Regions from separate parts of the Homo sapiens genome. Here region 2 is linked to region 1. Evidence: fine-mapped expression QTL. A gene starts in region 1. The other region holds a variant in brackets. All regions are shown on one strand. Distances are between the middles of the regions. Region 1 holds the start of CCDC70 (coiled-coil domain containing 70). Region 2 overlaps TMEM272 (transmembrane protein 272).

Region 1 (2,919 bases):
GACAGCCAGGTCAGGCCAGGATGCCTGTAACAGTCTCGCTGCTCTCTGTATTGATCTTACCCTCTCATCTGCCCCTGCACTGTAGCCCTACAGGTGTTTTCTAGAACACTCTCTCGTCCTATCACATCAGTTCACACACCTTCAAAGACCCTGTAGCCCAAAGATCAAAGCTGAACGCCCTAGGAAGGCCTTGTGCAGCCCAACTCCAGCTTGCTTCTCCCTCTCCTTCCTACCCAGCCTGCACCCAACTCCAAATCTAAGGCCCAGTATTAACGGGCTCTATTCAGCTCTTGGCACTCTGCCTGCAGTTTCCTGCCTGTGTGGTGAAGCACATGTCGCATCCTCTACTGAGAGCCCCTTTTGTTCCTGTGGTGGGCTTGAATTCCTGTACATCCTTTCCCCTCTGAAAGCTACTCGGACCCTCCAGACAAAGTTCCTCGCCACCTCTGCGATACTGTCTGTCTGTTACTCCACTATTACTTGTCACACTTGATTGAAATTAGGTGTGGACATGTCTTCCTGACATCTCTGTAACCCAGCAGCTATCATAATATAACGCCGCCTATATAGGAGGGAATTGGTGAAAATGTTGGTTGAATTGAACTGAATTGAACTGCATTTTGGAAATTTGATTTTCTATGTTGTATGGCTCTTTGCCTAGAATCCCTCCAATATGTGAAGTCCTCCCTCACTTCCATGTCATGCTGGCCCCCTCTCCCTGGATATCCTTGCCCAACCTCACTTCAGTTCACCTAGCGAATCCTTCAGCACTCAGATACCTCCTCCAGGCCATCTCTCCTAAGCTCAGACTGAGCATGTGCCCTTCCTGTCCCACTAGAAACACCTCATCTTCCATCTCTATGTCTGGCATCCAGCGAAATGTTCTGCCACAGGATAGGTGTTCAGGAAATAGTAGCTGGATGAATGGGCGTCTACTGGGTTAGGATGTTGGAAAACATTCACCTCCAAGTTTTTCTCAAGTGAACACTAAACTTTCTTTAAGAAAGAAAGAAAATAAGAACCATATCAAATAGGTAGATGTGTATTAAAATATAAAGTACAATATAAAACTGTAGATGTGTATCTGTATAGCTGTAAAAACATGCACTAAAGATACATGCCCAGTTTTCAGTTATACTGTAAGACTAGGAGCTTCTTTTTAAGGAAAATATTATATATTACCTTATGCTTAGAACAAATACTATACAGTCTAAAGCCAACAGTTACTTACTGCTTAGCTGCTTCCCACTGGGGTAAGTCCTGTAGCCCTCAGAGGGGGCAGGCGGCCATTGTCATGTCAGATCCCCAGTGATGCGTGCTTGCAGGCTTGCCCCAACAATGCTGGCAGTGACCTGTCTGTGCCCTTTCAGTCCTGACTCACAGGATGGAGATGGCCAAGAAGGGGACCCCTATAAAAGACTTTAAGGAAAGGAGGGGGCACTTGAAAGGTTTGAAAGAGTTCCTCTTCAATCTTTGACTTCACTGATAGGGCAGTGCTGTTGATGACTCACAAGTGATTGTTACCTTAGATTCTGTCAGCATTGGTTCCGGGAGCATGGTTCTAGGAAGTCATGTTCTGGTGGGGGCTTTGTGTGGGATGAATCACTTCTCTTGCTGCTTTCCAGATTCTTCGTCTTTGGCTTTTGATAGTTTGACTATGATGTGTCTTGGTCTTGAGGTTTATTCTACTTGGAGATTGTTGAGCTTCTTGGATATGCAGATTTGATGCCGTTTTTCATCAAATTTCAGAAGTTTTTGGCCATTATTTCTTCAAATATTCTTTCATCCATTTTCTCTGTCTCCTCTCCTTCTAGGGCTCATATTATGTGAATACTAGTAGCGTGAGTGTGTCCCCCAGGTCTCTAAAGTTACGTTCATTTTTCTTCATTCTTTTTTCTTTCTGTTGCTTAGATTAGATAATCTCAATTAACCTGTTTACAAGTTCATGGATTTTTTTCTTCTGTCAGTTCAAATATGCTGTTGAATCCCTCTTTAATTTTTCATTTTCAACTCCAGAATTTTTGTCATGTAGTAAAATTTTTAAATAGTCAAGTAAATTAACATATCCATCATCTCATATAGTTACCCTTTTTTGTGCACTGTAGCAAGAGCACCCACAATCTACTCTCTTAGCAAAAATCTTTAATACAGTGTTATTAACTACAGTCCTCATGTTGTACCTTAGATCTCTAAATTATTTATCCTATATATCTGCAACTTTGTACCCTTTGATTTCCCTCTTCCCGTCCACTCCCCACACGTAGCAGCTGCCATTTTATTCTTTGTCTGTGTATTTGACTTTTTTCTTACTTCTTCTTTTTAATTTTTTTAATATTCTACATATAAGTGAAGTTGTGCAGCATTTTTCTTTCTGTGTCTGGCTTATTTCACTTAGCATAATATTCTCCAGTTTCATCTATCTTGTGACAAACGGCAGGATTCTCTGTTTATGACTGAATAATATTCCACTTTATATACATGCTGCAATTTCTTTATCCATTCATCTGTCAGTGGACCCCTAGTCCATCCAGAATTTCTCCAGAAATTTTCACTGTGTCTCCAGAATTTGTTTGGTTATATATAGAAAAGGATATATGTGCTTTTCTATATACATATATATACACACACACACACACACACACTTCTATATATATATTTTTTCTATATATCTATATAAAAGTATATGTATACAAAGTGTGTGTGTGTGTATATATATATATACACACACACATATATATATGTATGCACACATACTTTTCTGTCTCTTTTTGGTAAGGCATAGTTTTTAATTCTTTCCTTTAATGCTTTTTTTTTTTTTTTTTGAGACATGTTTCTGTCACTCAGGCTGGAGTGCAATGGCATGGTATGATCTTGGCTAACTGCAGCCTCAATTTCCTGGACTCAAGTGATCATCCCACC
Region 2 (2,919 bases), 23 kb after region 1:
TCTGTAAAATGGGGATAAGAATCTTTGCCTGGTTAAATAGGATCAAGCATGACAGGACTGACCAGGGAGGCACCGTGACCTCCTTGCTTAATCCCTGACTCACTTTGGGAAGCCTCTCCTTTCCAGGTTTCTTCCCCTTTATTGCTCTGGGGTGAAGTGGAGAGATTGTGGGCTTTGAAGGCACAAAGTCCAGGTTTCAGATAGAGTCTCGGAGGCCTCATTTCAAACCCCAGTTCTACCACTTACTAGCTGGGTGACTTTGAGCAAACAAATTGATCTGAATCTTGGTTTTCTCTGTAAAATGGGGCATACGAACTGAGGAGACTAAATTAGGTAACATGTGGAAGACCTTGGCAGGGCGCTGGTGATATGCCTCTGGTTGGGGACTGACTATCTCTGGTCACACTGCTTCCTGCCATAAAGGTCCTGTTGACATAAAGCCAAGTTTTGAGCATGACATGTCCTAGAAGGACAGTGATGGGAAATAAGAACCCCGAGTCTCAGCCCAACCACCGTGCTTGTGTGCTAGCAGTGGATCAGCTGCAGAGAGAAGCTGCGGGCTGCATGGCTCCTGCCTGCAGGCCCATGCTGACGCTGGCGGTGGAGTGACTTGCCTGCTATGAGCCACAGCTCTGGTCAAAGCAAGCTCTCCTTCTGTCATCATGACCATCTCTGTCCTCAGACCACAAATCTTCCCCATCACGGCCTGTTCCCCCTGCCCTAAGCCCTAGTTCACCCAGGAGGGCCTGCAGGTAGTGCTGCTAAAATGCTGTGGTCCCTTGGTTTGCAAACCCCTGCAGTATGAGGAACAAGGACCTTGTTAAATCGTGCTTTTAAATGGAGCCGCGGCTACTCTGGACAGGTTCCTGGGGAGACTTTTGTATGAAGTAAGGATGCCTGCCCCAGATCCCGCCTGGATCAGCCAGCCCCCATGGAGGCCTTACTCCCAAGCAATGACGTGGTGGGAAGTGGTGGAACTACGCACACCCAGCCTCAGGAACAAAGTGACTCCCTTCCTCTCCTAGTGTCTTTACGGGGCTACCTCATTTCACCGGGCAGGAAAATTTGCCGTCTTGATGAGCTGGAGTTTTTTTGTGGATTTAAAATGTATATGGCTGTTTCTTCCAAGGAAGGGAAGCCCTTTCTCACAGTGTCAACCAACTTGCTCAGACCACAGCAGGTCCACAGGGGAGCCGGGGTGGTGCTCCAGGCCGCTCGGGTCTCCACCCAGGCTGCTCTGGTCAAGTCCATGGTTCCTCTTCCGCTTGGACCCTGGGGAGTGCAGCAGCTGCGTCAGGAAGTGAGGGCGCCCTTGCTCTGTACCTGGAGCCATACCTGGATCAAGTTTGGG[T/C]TCTGCCAGTTGCCAGCTCTGGCCTTAGGGTGAATCTTAAGCTCTCAGGGTCTCTAAGGCGCCATCTGTAAAACAGAGTCAGTAACACTTCCCAGATAGGATTGTTGTGGGATTAAATATGAGATGACCTATTTAAAGAGTTAACACAACGCCTGGCTGCAGCCATTGCTCAGCAAGTGAGAGCTGTTACCATCTCCCCCTCCAGGCCTGTGTCTTCCTGGCTGGTATCACTGGGCAAGCCTCTTAACCTCTCTGAGCTTGGTTCTCTCATTTGTGGAATAGGGGGTCTTTTTCTCAGCCCCGCTAACCACTAACAAGGCCACACCTGACACTGGCACCCAGGCCACCCGGGCTGACTGAGACCACCCTGCAGGCCACCACTGACATGCACAGAGAGGGTTGGTTATTGGTGCTGAGTAAATCCTTCCACCATCCTTTCTAATGAATTATTTTTGATCCTCAGAACTTTGTCAGCGAGCAAGAACAATGCCAGGAGGTCTGGAGAAAACGTGTCATCAGTGCATTTCTAAAATCGCCAGCAATGGTGAGTCACAACTCTGAGAAATGCCCTGGTTTTGTAGGATTGAGACCTCTGGGATCACCCGATGAGCTAAAGCTGGAGTGGATCATATGAGTGGGCTGTGCTTGGTATGGGGTGGCCCCAGGGTGGTAGAGCTGGGGAAGACAGTGTCCGGCCCTCGGTTGGCTGCTTTCTCCTTCCATTCCTTACCAATTCATCTTTAGTTTTCCATAGTTCACTGTATGTGTTTTCCATGTAATATGTGTTTGAAAAATATGCATGTGAACGGAGTCACTGCTACAATCAGTGTATGATGGCAGCCGTGCTGGGCAACACGGCAGGGCAATGTGACACCTTGGACCTGGGTAGCTTTCCCTTACTCCTACCTCAACCTGTCTCCTTACTAAATTGGATATTCCCCCACTATCACCTGCTGGGGTCCTTTCTGTCCAGAGGGGCTGGACCATATTACAGAAGACCCAGTCTGTCTTGTGTTTGGAATATCCCAAAATCAGATCCCAGGCCTTGGGGGTCCCTGGGATGAAAGCTTTTACATCATGGTGAGATGTATGGTCTAACTTTTACAGATGAAATGTGGATAAAGGGAACATTGTGGGAAGCCTTAAGCAACTCATCTCCAGGCACTAATATCAGGAAGCTGCAGTCAGTGGGTAGTGGCGGACTAAGGTGGAGGGTCAGCAGAACAAGGGGCTGACAGATGGGTGCCTGGGCACCTTTCCTTACCTGTACTTACCATGTCCTAGCACACACTGTCCACCTCCCACTTCTCCTCCCATGACGTTTCCTGCACTGCTGCATGCCAGCACCTCCAGCAGTGCCTGACACACAGTAGGAGCTCAATAAATAGGCACTGGCTGACTAAGCAGGTAAATGAGTGAAGAGCCACCTCCCAGATACAACTGACCTTCTCCATTCGCTGATGGGCCCAGTGCCCATCTCATTCTCCTAACGCACAGCCCTGACATTTTACTCCCAGGGACAGCTCTAAGGGCCACCCTCCTTTCATCCCTGGAGCACACCTACTGCT

Evidence for each region.
Region 2: its variant is fine-mapped to the expression of CCDC70 in whole blood (TOPMed, PIP above 0.99).

Annotation. Positions count from the first base shown.
Region 1 is chr13:51,860,542-51,863,460 of GRCh38, reverse strand. CCDC70 (coiled-coil domain containing 70) reads right to left here and starts at 1,492. Exons shown (of 2, transcript NM_031290.4): 1 at 1,232-1,492. It also overlaps a transcript of TMEM272 not described here. RefSeq lists an enhancer at 691-1,890.
Region 2 is chr13:51,837,449-51,840,367 of GRCh38, reverse strand. TMEM272 (transmembrane protein 272) reads left to right here. Exons shown (of 5, transcript NM_001351003.2): 2 at 1,815-1,895. The coding sequence starts at 1,838. Among named protein-coding and RNA genes, the nearest start is that of TMEM272, 6.3 kb to the left of the region's middle. The variant T/C (reference allele first, on the strand shown) is at 1,352.